Linked DNA regions of Homo sapiens: region 1 is linked to region 2. The links come from fine-mapping of genetic effects on gene expression. Tissue or cell type: whole blood. Region 2 holds a variant in brackets; the other region holds the start of a gene. All regions are shown on one strand. Distances are from middle to middle.

The links. PIP is the estimated chance that this variant, and not a neighbour inherited with it, causes the effect.
Region 1: LINC00426 starts here. The variant in region 2 is fine-mapped to the expression of LINC00426 in whole blood (TOPMed, PIP above 0.99).

Annotation. Positions count from the first base shown.
Region 1 is chr13:30,369,522-30,377,627 of GRCh38, forward strand. It overlaps LINC00426 (long intergenic non-protein coding RNA 426), which reads right to left and starts at 4,393. Exons shown (of 5, transcript NR_024464.2): 1 at 4,262-4,393; 2 at 2,764-2,853. RefSeq lists enhancers at 7,382-7,501, 7,632-7,691.
Region 2 is chr13:30,338,700-30,346,805 of GRCh38, forward strand. It overlaps LINC00426 (long intergenic non-protein coding RNA 426), which reads right to left. Exons shown (of 5, transcript NR_024464.2): 5 at 1,567-2,769. LOC124903145 (a long non-coding RNA gene) reads left to right here. Exons shown (of 2, transcript XR_007063742.1): 2 at 6,257-8,106. Among named protein-coding and RNA genes, the nearest start is that of LINC00427, 23 kb to the left of the region's middle. RefSeq lists an enhancer at 1-375. The variant A/G (reference allele first, on the strand shown) is at 3,427.

The DNA.
Region 1 (8,106 bases), 31 kb after region 2:
TAAAAAATAAAATAATGATAATAAATAAGCAACTCAGACATCTAATGACACCAACATTTCTGACCAGCCAATAAAGCACAAACTCCTTTATATATTACACCTAGGTCAGGTGCGGTGGCTCACGCCTGTAATCCCAGCACTTTGGGTGGCCAAGGCAGGTGGATCACCTGAGATCAGGAGTTCAAGACGAGCCTGGCCAACATGACAAAACCCCGTATCTACTAAAAATACAAAAAATTAGCCAGGCATTGTGTCGGGCGCCTGTAATCCCAGCTACTGATGATGCTGAGGCCGGAGAATTGCTTGAGCCCAGGTAGGGGAGGTTACAGTGAGCGAGATGGCACCAGTATACTCCAGCCTGGGTGACAGAGTGAGACTCCGTCTCAAAAAAAAAAAAAAAGTAAAAAAAAATTAATAAAATATATATTACACCTGGCCCTACCTCCCCACCTTTATCTTCTACCTCGCCTAGACTGACATTTTAAGCCCTATCAAGATGCAGCTGTTCATCCCTTGCCTTCCTCTCCTAAACCTGATCATGCTTCCACCTCCCATTGCCTCAAAGGCTGACCTTCAGCTGTTATCCCCCACCATCTCTGACCCTGCCTCTTCCCTCCCAAAGCTCCCATGACCCCAGTGCTTACTTCTGGATGACCCTATTGATTTCTATTATATGTTTATGTGTTGTATCTTGAGGAAAGGGATGTGCTTTCTACTGTCTTTGAATCACCATCCCCTAGAATAGTGCCCAGCCAGTCTTAGAGCAGAATGACAAACAGGGTGAAAATCTAAAGCCAGTTTCAGCACAAGACTGTCAGTATTTTTAGCCTTTTGAGAGGAAATACCGGAAGTCATCACCACCCCCAAACATCCTATGGGCATTTCTTTACTATTAAAACATCCCCATGTTCCTTAACACACAGGTGTGGGGATGGGATGGCTCACATCACCTTCTTGCATTCATCCCTGATTCTTCTTCTCAGTGTCTCCAGTTAGGTATAGACCTGAGTGAGAGACAAGGGTTGAGACCCAACTCTCCATCCCAAGCTATCTTTCCCAAGACCCGAAATCACCTGAGGCTCCCATCTACCTCCCTAAACACACACACACAGACCAAGTGTCTCCTCCCTGCCACACCCTGCTCTCATGCCTGGTTCCCCCCATGGCCTGAAGTGCCTGCCACCAACTTGGCCCAAGTCAGCAGCAATCTGGTGGCATCTCATCATCCCCAGGATGACTATTGGCTTGACACCCTACCAGACTTCTGGTTGCCCCAGTCTCCTGTGGCCACAGCTAAGAAGCTGAGCCTTTGATAAGTAGACAGCACTATTAGGCCCTTAAAGGTCACCCATGCCTTGCACCATAGCCAACAGAGGTGAGAAACATGGCTTCTGTTCCAGGTGATCCGCTGTATACCCTGTTCTGATAGTTACTGAGTACTTACCAAGTGTATGCCACCTACTGACTGTCTTACAAAAGGTGCAACTTGGCATCATAAGAACATGGGCTCCACAGTCAGGCATAGGTTCAAATCCCAGGTCTGCCACTTAGTAGTTGCGTGACCTTGAGCAAGTTACCAACCTTTCTGTGCCTCAGCTTTCCATCTGTAAAATGGGACTGACCACAATAGTACCTCCCTCATAGGATTGCTCTGAGGAATAAATGAGTTAACAGAAAAACAGTGCCTGGGATGTAGTTGGGGCCACACAAGTATTAGCTGTCATTATTCATGTGCATTAGTTCATCGACTTCTCACATCACCCCATTTTACAGATGAGAATACTGAGGCTAAAGAGACAAAGAAGCCCAGACCTAAGCATCTCCAGCATCCATGTCCTCAACCAGTGAGGCCATGCATGGCCCAAATCCCCTCAGCCATGCAGCTAGGCCTCCATTCCCAACGCTTAAACTGGGCAAATCTTCCACATCCTTATATTGATATCACCTATCATTTTAGTAGGAAATGAGCTCTGAGTTGATTCAAAGGTAGGAAATCCTCCTACTTAAAAACAGTTCGTTTCATAAAAACGAAAACCCTTGTTAATTAACACTCCATTAACAGGAAAATGATATGGTGGCAGACTGAGGGCTCAGGGTTCCAAGTTTTGACTCAGTGTTGTCAACAAGCACCTCTTTTTGCCCAGGGAATATCAGAGAATTGTTCATACAGAGACAGCGACCGCAGATGGGGCACTAGTGCCTTCAGCTGCAAAAGGTCGTCTGGCAGGAAGCATGTTGGTCTCCTGGCAGTTTCTTGGGCCATGTGACATAACCGCCAGGTTATACTTCTGCAATTACAGTCCCCAGGGACCTGCCGCATGAAACAGACATTGGTTGTGATCCTGTAAAAAGCCGCAAGCAGTGGCTCTTTCAGTACAAGGAAACCCTTGGGACAGAAAAGTTTACTTTTGCTCAGGCTTTATGGTGACAGCCAGCGTGATCAACAGGAATGCTGCAGTTGGGTGACGCATGAGGCTCAGGAGCCTTTGCGCTTGACTTTGAAAGATTATAAATACACCAGGCTCGCCAAGCATAGCCAGTCAGTTACAAATTACGAGTCATCTTTCGGTTGTTGCTGAACTTCCTTTACACCTCTTGTTTTGAACACAGTGAGCAAACAACGTCTAATCTTTTGGCTGTGGAGTTCCAAGTACACCACAAGGCATCGGGACACACCTTTACCCCAGCTGCTTTGTGTGGTTGCAGGTTAACCAGACATGCAGCTAGGAGTTCACCTAAAACCTTCCTTTCCCCGGTACATACCTTGGTGTTGATTTGACAGCTGGATGCTGAGTATTGATCCCAGTGTTCAGGGATAGTTACTTCATTAAGACTTCTGAGATCCCCCATTTGCTTGAAGATAAAAACAGGCAAAGGTATAAACAGATAAACAGTCACACAAATAAGTAGCTGTGTGGGCCATTACTTTTAAAGCATAGTAGATGTTATTTGTGTTTGGAGAAGCTTAATGATACACTCAAGAATCCAATAGTAGAAACTGTTTGCTTTCAGGAAGAAAACGTTATATCAGGAAGGTATGTTTGAAGAAAAGAACTATATAACAGCGATCCACAATACACCTGTTCATTTGTAGCATAATAGTTACACCTGCTCCCTGGGGCTTTTTTGAGATTTCAGTCTTTGGTGTAAGACACACATACACACATGTGCACACACAATGGTAAGCATGCATGCTCTTCAGCTTCAACCCTCAGTGCGCAGTAAAATAAAAAATATAGTTGAATCATCTGTCTCAGCCCCAGCTAGAGCCCACGTCTTCCAACATGAATTTTAAAATACCTTTTTGCCTTTTAAAATATGCTGTAGAGGCCGGGCGCGGTGGCTCACGCCTGTAATCCCAGCACTTTGGGAGGTCAAGGCAGGCAGATCACGAGGTCAGGAGATGGAGACCATCCTGGCTAACAAGGTGAAACCCCGTCTCTACTAAAAATACAAAAAAGATTAGCTGGGCGTGGTGGCAGGTGCCTGTTGTCCCAGCTACTCAGGAGGCTGAGGCAGGAGAATGGCGTGAACCCGGGAGGCGGAGCTTGCAGTGAGCCGAGATCGCGCCACTGCACTCCAGCCGGGGCAACAGAGCGAGATTCCATCTCAAAAAAAAAAAAAATGCTGTAGATGAGTTTTAGTTTATCCGGGTCCTTTGTAATTAATCTCTGCATTCATCATAATTGGAAGAAAAGCTCAAAGTAAGAAAATAGCTTTCCTCCAAGTTTATTGCAATCAGAGAAAAATACAATTTAAATGTTTTTGTTTCCCATTTCTGTTCCTTACATGCATTGTCTAGAGTGGTTCCTGGTCTATAAGCCAGTGGGTTGAGATACCTGACCAGACCACCTTTTCAACCCAGTTCTTTCTCCTCTTTGTATTTCTCCCATACAATACAGTATTGAATATTTCATAACCTATGGGTGTATGTTTTTGGCAATGTGGCTAAGTCAGGCAGCATTGAGGACTGTCCTGGTGACAGTCCGGTGCAGCCCTCACCCAGGCTCCCACATTCACACCCCTCCACTCTCCAGTGGGCTGTGTAAGTTAACGGCAAATAAATGGCCCAGAATGGCTTCCTGTTAGAGAAAAAAAGGGACAAAGACTTCTGCCCTTAAAACTCTGGTAACAAAAGTAATCTAGTGGAAATCAACATTACTAGGAATATCCTATGATTTTGGTGGTGTTGAGTTCAAAGACAGCATGGCCGAATTGTGACCATCCACCCAGTCACATGAGGCAAAAACCCAGGCCCTACCTGTGTCCTGACCTCCAGCTTCCTCCCCACGGCCAGTTGGTTAGAACGTGTAGGGAGTGTACCTCTCCCAGCCGTGGAATCCCCTCACCATCTTCACCCCTTCCCCACCTTCAAAGACTTTCATGGCCGAGTGTGGTCTGACCACACTTGATCCAAAGCCCTTCCTCTGAGCTCTCAGCTCCACGTCACAACCTCGTGACCACGTGCCTCTCACTGTCATGTGCTTAGATATGTGTGTGTGTGTCCACCTCACCACACACTGTGAGATCCTTGAGGGCACGTTGTCTCTTTCATTTCTGTGTCTCCAGTGCCTAAAATGGAAAGTGCTCACTTACTAAATAAATATACAATATAAAAAATAATTTTTATCCCTTGTCCCATTTGAGATGGAAAATGAGTAAAGTTTACAAGTATTAATATAGTCAGCATCCCACTAAGACCACACAGACACTGAGATGAGCAGAGGATGCTGAGGAGCAAATGCAAAATAAACTATGAGAACTGTGACAGCTTCCAGTGCTCTTCATTATAAATATCAGCAATTGCTAATATCCAATAACATGTCACACACTCTACATTAAATCATCACAAGTCTCTAAGGCAGGTGTTAGTTTTCTCTTTGTACAGCCCAAGAAGCTGAGACAAGAGTCACACAACCAGCCAATAGAGAGAAAAGATTCAAACCCGGAGACCTTCTGTCTCTAATCCCACCCTCCTCCCACTGTCTCCTGCTGCCTCTCTGTTTCAAAGCTTGGCTCTGAGACTATGAGCACTGCCAAAATTTTACAACAGTTTGCGTATGTCATGGTCTGCAAAAGCTGTGGATGGCACTGTGGTGGCAGCCTCAATAGAAGGCTGAGACTACTTACCAGAGGGAGGATTTCCTGAGCTCCGATCACACCTGCTCTTTGTTCTCTCTCTGTCTGTCTCTCTGTGTGTGTCTCTCTCTCTCTCTCTCTCTCTCTCTCTCTCTCTCTCTCTCTCTCTCAATACAGACAGGGTCTCACTCTATTGCTCATGCTGGAGTGCAGTGGCGTGATCATAGCTCACTGCAGCCTCAAAGTCCTGGGCTCAAGTGATCCTCCTGCTTCAGTCTCCTGAGTAGCTGGGACTACAGGCATGCACCACCAGGCCTGGCTAATTTATTTATTTTTATTTTAATTTTGTAGAGACAAGGTCTCGTCCCTTCCCCAGACTGATCTCGAACCCCTGGGCTCAGGAGATCCTCCCACCTCGGCCTCCCAAAGTGCTGGGATTACAGATGTGAGCCACCACTCCTGGCCCACACCTACTCTTTATCCTCAACCCACACCCCCAGGCTCAAACTCAAAAGGAAGGAGCAAACCCTAGAAGCTGCGTAAAACACACCTTGACCTAAAATGTGCTCATGACCAGGCAACTTGACTACATATTCTCCTCGACCTACGGTGGAGTGACATCCCTATAAAAGCCATTGTAAATTGAAAATATTGAAAGTCTAAAATGCTTTGAATACACCTAACCTATCGAATATCAGAGCTCAGCCTCGCCTCCCTTAAACGTGCTCAGAACACTTACATTAGCTTACAGTGGGCAACATAATGTAACACAGGCCTATCTATGTTATAATACAGTGTTGAGTATCTCATGTGATTTATTGAATACTGTACTGAATGTGAAACAGAATGGTTGTCCGGGTACTCACCATTAGCTGACACAGCTGAACGCACACTGCGCCTGAAGAGCGTTTGAAGCATTGAACTAAAATTAATTGCTGGGTGATGGGGATGCTACAACGACAGGGTCATCAATTTCTCTCTCTTCTGCTGAGGCTGGAGAACCACGGGTAGAAGGCGCTGGAGCATCAACGCTTGATGGTTTGGCAGGCGTAGTGCTCTTCCTTCAGGAAGGCATCAGGTGTCCGTGGTTTACCCTTCTGATGGCAGGGCTGCCTGGGTGCTTTGGCTCACAGCCATGCCCAGCATCAGGAGAGTGTCATACAGCATATCCCTTGCCTGTGGGATAAAGGCCAGTCTTCAGAATCCGAAGTGCACTTTTTGTTTTTTTTTTTTGAGACGGAGTCTCACTCTGTTGCCCAGGCTGGAGTGCAGTGGCATGATCTTGGCTCACTGCAACCTCCACCTCCCAGGTTCAAGCGATTCTCCTGCCTCAGCCTCCTGAGTAGCTGGGACTACATGCGTGTGCCACCATGCCTGGCTAATTTTTGTATTTGTAGTAGAGACGGGGTTTCACTGTGTTAGCCAGGATGGTCTCAATCTCCTGACCTCATGATCCACCCTTCTCGGCCTCCCAAAGTGCTGGGATTGCAGGCGTGAGCCACCGCGCCCAGCCCTGAAGTGCACTTTCTGCTAAATGCCTGTCACTGTCATACCATCCTAAAGTTTAAGCTGGAACTCTCTATGCTTGCACCTGTTGCCTGAAGGGTGTATTAGAAATAATAGTTTCCTCCAACCCCTCCCCACCTCATTTGTGGAAGAATCTCATGTCTCCCTCCTAGAAATGGATTCAGCCTGAGATTCTCAAGACCAAGGTGGCATCCCAGGGTTCCAGGCTCTGGAGACAAGGATGTGGAGGGAAGGGGGTTAGGGGGAGGTCACTCTGGGAAAACACATGTAACCTAGATCCCCAGTGAGCTAAGTGAGACTGACTCCTAGATGGAAATAGCCCCAGCGGACTTGTCACTGCAAGAATTCTGGTCTCCCTGGATACCTAGCATGCTCAAGAGCCCACTTGAAACACTGAAACACTTCAGCATACTGTATGTGCTCAGGGGAGTGGCTGAGACTAGCAGGTTGAGGAAGGAAAAGGAAGAGGGCCTTCTATGTGCCAAGTCCTAGAGCTCAGGCACCATACCAGGAGCCAACATGAAAAATAGTCTGCAGCAGACATTGCTCTCACCTCACACAAAACCACTCCAACCTCCTAGCAAGATTTCCTGTGCACCAAAGCCTGAAACACCAAAGACCTCTTCCTCCAAAGTCCCTTGCACTAGGGTTTCCCCAGAGTAATCTTCCAGGTCGATTATAATAATAATAGCAGCTTACCCAGGTAGATGCTCTAGTGCATGGTATAGCCTGAGCATTTTAAGTGGCCACCACAGTGCCCCTCTGGAAGCACAGAGGTGGAGGTGCTTCGGACCTTCTCCAGCAGGGATGACAGTGGCACTATGTCTAGTCAATCTCTAACCTCAGGGGCAGTCAGCAGCATCAGCACAGCTTCCTGGTTCAGCAGCTTTCCGGCCTGCAGCACAGGCAATGTGGTTTTTGAGTTCACAGTGGAAGCAGCAGATACAGCAGCTACCTGACTAAGCCAGTTTTGCAGTGTGGTTCTGAGACTGTACCTGGACCTAGACCCACTCTGTAGCCTCCCTCTCCAGCCCTTGACATCATTCTATAGCCCAGTGGTTCTCCAAGGGTGGGCTCTGGACCAGCAGCACCTGGGAACTTGTTAGAAATGCAAATTCTTGGGCCCCACCCCAGACCTGCTGAATCAGAAACTCTGGGGGCGGGACCTGGTAGGCTTGACTTTAGCAAGCCTTCTAGGTGATTCTGCTATGCCCTTAAGTTTAGGGACCTCTGCTGAAAGTCATCCACCTCTAATAAATCCATTTCTACTATAACTAGAGTGGATCCTGCTGTCTGCAGATTCATCCTGACTGAATCACAGTCGCTGTCCTCATGTTGTCCATAAGGAAGACAATAAATAATGACAAAGCAGCATGTCATTCTGGGGGAAGAAAAGAACAGGGTCACCTTACCCAGCCAAGAATGGTGACCTCCCAACTATTTTTATAATCTAGCCTTCGCAACAATTTTGAACATGCACCCTCAATAGTTATATTTATT
Region 2 (8,106 bases):
TTCATCAATTAGATAGAAGGAAATAAGAGAGACTCTCTTCTGTCTTAAGTGCAGGCACAAAGAGCTGAATAATATCACCCAAAAGGCAGCCTATCGATGACTCAGCCTCCACCTAGGGACATCCTCTGTGACCTTACTCATGTCAGAGAGGACCCCATACTGAACATCTCTCTCTTTACACCAACAATGTCTTAACCAAGAATGTCCTAATTAAGGTCAGATGACACCAAGTTGTCAAGCATCCGTCTAAGGTAGGAATAGAGCCAAAATAGCATTAACTGACAGTTCATAAAGAGTGAGGTGCAATAGGAACAAGTTTAACATTAAAAAAAACTATGTAGACAAAAAGAAGAATATATGTTGGCTCGTTCACTAAACTAGTAACCAGTGTCACCCAGAGTTGTAGCCAGATAAGGAATGCTCAAGAATAGCCGGGTACCTGGACACCCCTGATAAATTTAACTCATATCAGAGAAGGCAACAGGAAGGCAGAGGAAAAGGGAAGGAGAGACAGAATGAGAAAGAGATCAGGGAAGAGAAGATAGGGAATTGCAATGTTGCTGTTGTTTTTGTTTATGTTGAGAGTGGAAGATGCTAGTCCATTGGAATTCACGTTCACTTATATGGGCAACAAATAATTTATTGAGCATGCAGTGTGTGCCAAGCACTGTAACCAGTGCTAGGGATATAGCAGTGAGTGGAACATTCAGGATCCTGCCCTCATGCGGTCTTCTTCCTCTACCCAACTTCCAAGTGTTGAGGAGCCCATTACGAGTCCTTAGATGGCTTCTCGTTTCCATCTGCACCCACCGTTCGTATGATCTCATCCACTACCACAGCTTTCCATACCATTCATCTGTGACTCCTTGCAGATTCAGACTTCCATCCCATCTTCAAGTGGCCAGTTATCTAGTTGTCCTCTCAACAAACCACAACCTTCGTCCATTCAAAGCAGAATCTTGATTCTTCCCTCCCCCTGCCCAAACCTCTTCTTTCTCCCATCTCTCCCACCTCCACACATGGCACCAAACACAGCCAAAACAGGGGAGTTGTCCTGGACTCCCACATCCCACGTTCTGTTGATTCTAATTTTCCAGAATTCGAATTGCATCCCACAGCCAAAAAACAGCAGTTTCTTCTTAATTATTTTGCATTCTAAAGATTGCTGCAAACAGGACTAGAGAAGACACCCCCGTCGTCCTTCGCTGTACCCCCTTCCTGCCCTCCAACTGTGACCTTGGCTGAACCAGCCCTACCACTATCAAGCCAACAAGAAGACTGCAGAAAGAGAGGGGTTTTGGGGGGTTTATTGCCTTGGGAGCAAGGACTAAGCACTCACGAGGAACGTTACTGCCTCCCTCACTCTGGGGAAAGTAAAGAGATGAATCCCAAAGTGATGAGAGGCTCGAAAGCCAGGGTCAGCAAACTTTTTCTGTGAAGGGCCAGATGGCAAATACTTTAGGATTTGCTGTCATACAGTGCCCGTCACAACTACTCAGTACTGCCATTGTAGCGTGAAGGCAGCCGCAGACAGTAGCGAATGAGACAGAAATAAATGAGCAAGGCTGTCTTCCAGTAAGACTTTATTTATGGACACTTACATTTGAATTTCATGTGATTTTTCACATATCACGAAATAGTATTCTTCTCTTGATTTTTTTTTCAACTACTTAAAATAGGTAAAAACTATTCTTAGCTCACGGGTTAAACAAAAACAGGCAGCAGGCCAGTCCTGGCCACTGGCCATACTTTGCCAACTCTTAATCCAGGAGAGCCACTCACAGACAATGCAGGGCCAGAAAGGGACAGTGACATCTCACTTCCCAGTAGACCCCTGATAAGCTGCAGAACTGCAGGCCCCTTCTGGAATGGAGCTAAGGGCGATGAGAACATTGTGTGTTCTCTGGAGGCTGGGGACACAGGGAGCCTATGGCCGGGGCCTGCCACTTAGCTGGAAGCTTCTGAAGGCAGGATGACTCAGTGGAGCAGGCCCTGATGCAAGAGGAACAGGACTCATTTGCACTCAACTATCTCTCAAAAATATTATAAAGCTGTGTCTCCTAAACTTCAGCTCTCTCTGCAGTAAATTTAAACTGTTGCGACATTGTTGCGGGTGATTTACTGGGGTGGTAAGCTTTTGCATGTTTTTTGGGAGGTTCCTTTTAAATTTCTACTACCATTGCTATCATTTTTAAGGAGTTATTCAGATGACAGAATGTTAAGCGCTGATAGTGGCTAACAAGGGAGGCTGCAGAAAGTCTATGCTGGGATCTTTAAAACCGTGATCAACTGCCATCTGTTTTGGGAGTTTTAAAGTGAGCCCAGCATGCATCAGGAGGCTAGGTGGGTCACCACTTAAGTCTCCTCCATCTTCCTAATTCCAAGATACGAGAGGAAACAGATGTGCGTTGGGGAGAGTAATGAGAAAGAGCAACTCTGCTTTCCTTTTCTCCAACAACAGAAACAGTGAATATTAACTCCCCAAATCCCTGTGTAACACTCACTGAGTACCCAGCCAAAGAAGTTTCCTTTGAAATTGAATCTGTCTGTCTAAGAGGGTCTACAAAGCCTGCATTTTAACTCTGAAATAATTCCAGTTACTTGAGCTGCTGTTGCTGCTAAAAGATGTTTGAAGAGGAGGAGGAAAAGCCATCTCGATATGACAAGGATTTGTCACTTGCTGCAAAGAAGGCACGGGATTTTTTTTTTTTCCCTGTAAAAGGGGTAGTCAGAGTTGGGAGCTTGTCCCTGTCTTCTTGGCCGAGATTCCTAGAGGAAACACAAATAGACTTTTTCAGGTCACAGGTTTCTCTGCATCAGGTGGTCCGGAGTCTCGCTCAGTTTCTATAAATCAGGCCGTTTCTCTCCAACTTATGAGTCTCCTAGCACTGGACATTCTGGAAATCCAAATGAAATTGACAAATTCGGTTGATGTCATAGCAAATTCAATGCACCTTGCTCTCTTCAGGCTGATTTCAAATCACTGGATTGAGAAGAGCTAAAATCTAGCTTTTGTTTTTAAAAATTAGACTGTATAAACTGATTTTAAAAAAATAACACAGGAATAGATATTATGTAAGATTTTCTATTCCCCGCACCCCCCGCCCCCCACCCCGCCACCAGATTTTTGTGGCCATCACCTTTTCGTGACCAATTTTATTCCCACAGTGCAAGCAGAGGGTTTGCAGTTTTGTGATGCCTTTTCGTTTTTTAGTGCCACATCATTATCAATCAAGATGTCCAGATAAATTACTTAACAGAGAGGCAGTAGAGGCGCTGCTCACATAACCACCCAGCTGAGAAAGCCTTCCTTCACTCACTCTCTTCTGTCCTGGACAGACTCATGTGGTTTACAGTTGCTCTCATTTCCATTTATCAGAAACAGATTTGCAAATGTTTTCTTTTAAGCTGGTGTCCCTTCTCTCC[A/G]TTGTAATCTCAATAAGTATGAAAAGAGAAATATAGAAAATGAGCAGCATTGCTTTTTATCTCATCACCACTCACTGAGCACCTACTGCATACTCGCCTCCAAGCAGGCGTCCCCTCCCTAACAACAGCACAAGCAGGCATTATTCATCCATTTTCACAGCTACGTAAACTAAGCTGTAGAAGTTCAATAACTTGCCCGGGCTCATACTTCTGGTATGAAGTGGAGCCTGGCTTCCAGCCCAGCTCTGTCTGCCTCCAGCGCCTTTCTCTGCACTGTTCAGCAATGCCTGGCTACAGAACACGGCCAGTGTGGCCAAGCATTTTCCATGACTGTCCCTGGAGCACATTAATTCACCTCCTGAAGTGAACCTCTTTGGGAAGATGAGCCTTTTCCAAAATCAATACTTTTCATTGTAGTTAAGCAATTATGACCTAAAAGAAAATTTTCACCATGATACTGAAAGCCACCAGCTTCACATAAACACCAAACGTGCTGTAACTGAGGAGGTAAGGGGCGAGTCCTTGTCACACATTTCTTGGAGGTCAGGTCAATCCACCTGTGAGCCCAAAATTATGCTGGCAGAAGGAAGAAGCGAGATGATTTTTAATTGTTATGAAGTGTGCTGGTAACTTAAGTTGTTCTGTATTTCCATCCTTGTTTTGAAACCAAGCTGAAGCTCTCTCTGTCTCTCTGTCTCTCTGCTTTCCCTACAAATTGGACAAGAGTTTCTTCTTGGCTTCCATATGACATCAGGTCTTTCCTAAATAAAAGCAATCAATGCAGGAAAAAAAAAAATTCAAAGATAGGATGCCACTCTCTTTCACAACGATTAGTAGTTTTATATTTCCTTCCAGTCTTGTTGATGTGGATTTAACTAGTACATATTTTTAAATGCTAAAAATTGTATGTATTTCTTTTTATACCTCACATTATATCATAAACATATATGTTTCTATATAACCTTTATATGACTAATTACATCATAAACATATTTGCATGTTTCTATATAACCTTTACGAATTTAACAACTGTATAATATTCCTTCAAGTTGATATACCCCAGTTTCTTAAACTATTTCTCTTCTGTTAAGTGTTTGTAGTGTTTCCCTAATATAAGTAATGTTTTGTTTTCACCTAGGTCTTAGAAAAAAAAATAAGTACTGTTAATAAACTTTTTTGGTGTATATACCCTTTTCCCTTTCACTGGAATTTTTATTTAAGCTAAACTGTCAGAAGTATAATTACAGGGCCAAGAGATTTGAATATTTTATGTTTGATCTTTCTTACATCCTGAACACATACATATTATTTTCAACATTCTTCCTGTCATCTTCTAAGCATAATCTGGGAGAAACAGTCAATTCATTTCTTCATTTCTCTCACCCTTGACTGGGCATTGGATTATAGTAGAGCTTGCTCACCCTCAAAGCTGCTGCCAATTTCTTCCTTCCTTTCCTCCTCTCCTCTCCTCTCGTCTCCTCTCCTTTCTTCCTACCTTTTCTCTTCTCTTCTTACCTTTTCTTTCTGACAGGGTCTTGCTCTGTTGCTCAGGCTGGAATACAGTTGTACAATCATAGCTCACTCCAGCCTCAACCTCCCAGGCTCAAGGGATCCTCCCAATTCAACCTCCTGAGTAGTTAGGACTACAGGTGCACAGCAACACACCCAGCTAATTTTTGTATTTTTTGTAGAGACAAGGACCCACTATGTTGACCGGGCTAGACTCAAACTTCTGGGCTCAAGTGATCCTCCAGCCTCAGCCTCCCAAAGTGCTGGGATTACAGATGTGAGCCATGGCGCCTGGCCAGCTGCTGCCAAATTTTGAATATAAGCTAGACTTCTTGAAAAGTCCCTATGTTTCCCATATAAATAGAAGGCCAGAAAGATTTTTTTAAAATTATTACTCAGTGCTGGCAAGGGTACAAGGAAATAGACACTAATAAATTTCAATGAGTATAGACTGGTACAAACTTTCTGGAAAGCAATTTGGTAATATATGGGAATGCATTTAAAATGTATATATGCTTTAGGCCGGGCACGGTGGCTCACGCCTGTAATCCCAGCACTTTGGGAGATCGAGGCAGGTGGATCACCTGAGGTCAAGAGTTAGAGGTCAGCCTGGCCAACATGGCGAAACCCCATCTCTACTAAAATTATAAAATTAGCCAGGCATGATGGTGGGCGCCGGTAATCCCAGCTACTCAGGAGGCTGAGGCAGGAGAATCGCTTGAATCTGGGAGGCAGAGGTTGCTGAGCGGAGCTGAGAGCACATGACTGCACTATAACCTGGGCAACAGAGAGAGACTCCGTCTCAAAAAATAAAATAAAATAAAATAAATAAAATAGAATGTATACATGCTTTAGTCCAACCATTCTATTTTAATAATTTATCATAAGAAGGAAAGTCAAGGTAGGTACAAATATTTGCTACAAGCATATTCTTTTTAGCAATCCTTATAATAGCAAAAATAAAAACAAATTTAATCCAACAAAAGGTGACTGGCTTAAGAAATTATGACACATCTGTATAATGGGTATCATGCAACCATTTAAAATTATAATTGCAGATGACAAGATATATTAGTCACATAAACACAGCCTCATAATATATGTAATGAAAAAAGTCATACAATAGCACTTATTATATTGTCTATTTGTGTAAAATATATATACCTAGATAGGAGTATGATATGCTCCAGTTGTTAACAGTATTTGTATCTGGATGGTGGAATCATTGGTGGTGAATAGTTTTGCCTTTTTATCTTTTACACCACAGGTATTTTGTGTTTATAATAAGAAAGAAAGCTTATTTTTTTCTCATTTATACCAGTTTCAGAAGCTTACAAGTGCACAAAAATGTTTCCTGCCGCCCCCACCAAGATGGAACAGGGACAAGAAGAACTGATCTGCATCATCCTCTAGATTCTGTGTGCGCTTCCTGATCCATGCCTCCAAATGACAAGGGTTACAGGCATGCAGCAATGAATGTAGGCAAAATCCTTTCTGTATCTAATTCAAAACACCAGTACCCCCAGTCTAGCAAAGGAAGTGAGAATGCCCCAACCACTCTAATCAGGGACATGGACAGTTCTCCCAGCAGAAGTAATGAGGGCCTCCTCTTGAGTCAAGAAGATACTATCTTCCCTCTGAATCCACAAAATGAATCCACAAAAGCTCTAGTAGCTAATTTTTCCTTTCATTAAAATAAAACAGGTGGTACAGTAAGTAAAGAGCTTATCAATTGCACATTAAACTAGAGGTAATGGGTACTGTACTCTCTGTATTACGTTTTCTATTGCTGTGTAACAAATTACCCCCAAACACAGTAGCTTGGCACAGCAAATGTGTGTGACCTCTCACAGCATCTGAGGGTCTGGAAACTAGTAAGGTGGGGCTGACTCAGGGGCTCTCACAAGGTTGCTGTCAAGTCAGGGCTGCAGTCACCTGAAGGCTTGACTGGGGCTGGAGGAGCCACTTCCAAGTGTGCTCACAGTGTTCATGGCTTCAGGCCCTCACTGGCTGTTGGCTAGAGTCCCCATGGCCTCTCCATAGACTGTCTGCATGTCCTTTTGACATGAGAGCTGGCTTGAGAATTAGTGATCTGATAGATGAGGGGAGAGAGAGAGAGAGGGAGAACATGAGAACTAATCTTAAAAATAAACTCCACTGGGTTCTGCTGTGTCCTATTGGTCACATAGATCAACTCTGCCACAGTGTGGGAGGGGACTACACCAAGGGTGAACACCAGGAGGTGGGGACCATCACAGGCCATCTTGAAGGTCACTGACCACATTCCCCAATCAAAGGCCTGCCTCCCCAACACAGCCCACCACCACTACCTCAGTCAGAGAACTGGGGACTCAGGAACTTAAAGCCATCTCAAAGAAATACAGTTGGGAGACCATGGTTGCAAATGAGTCCACGAAAGCTCTAATAGCTAATTTTTCCTTTCATTAAAATAAAACAGGTGGTACAGTAAGTAAAAGAGCTTATCAATTGCACATTAAACTAGAGGTAATGGGTACTCTATAACTCATTTCCATTTCATTGTGCTTTGCTTACTAGAAGCTTTCAGATTTCCCTGGCAGCAGTTTCAAGGAGATTCTGATAGACTTATTTTGCTTAGATGCAGACACTGTGCACACTGAGAAGGCTTTTTCTCTGTGTCTGGTCCTATGTGCAGTGTTAGCGTGGCTGTCATAGATTTGCTCTGCGTCTTGCTCTGGCTATTGTCCTAAAGGCACAATTTTGGCCAAATGTAGTTTACTACTTGGTTAAGGGGAAGTGATGTGGGGAGAAATCACAGTCCCTCAAGGCCTAACATCGAGGGATTTAAAGCCTTAACAACTGCCCATGCCTACTTCATTCCAGAGCTCGTCAGAGAACACCCAGCATAGGACCTGGGCTCTGCGGGCCCTCCCACCTCCCTTAGCTCCTGTGCTACCCAGCCCTTGCAGTACAAGCTGTACCTGTTGTCAACCTCCACTCACCACACCTACCCCAAGCCCAGACCACATTAACCTCCATGGCCACAGCTTCCTCTTCACCTCTTTCTGCCCTTTCTAGCTTCCAGCTAACTAAAAAAATTATTACCAACAAGGTCAACTGACAGTCTCCATATACTTGCCTCTAAATTTTGGAAGGTAATTGCTATAGTTTGATTATGGTTTATTTGACCCC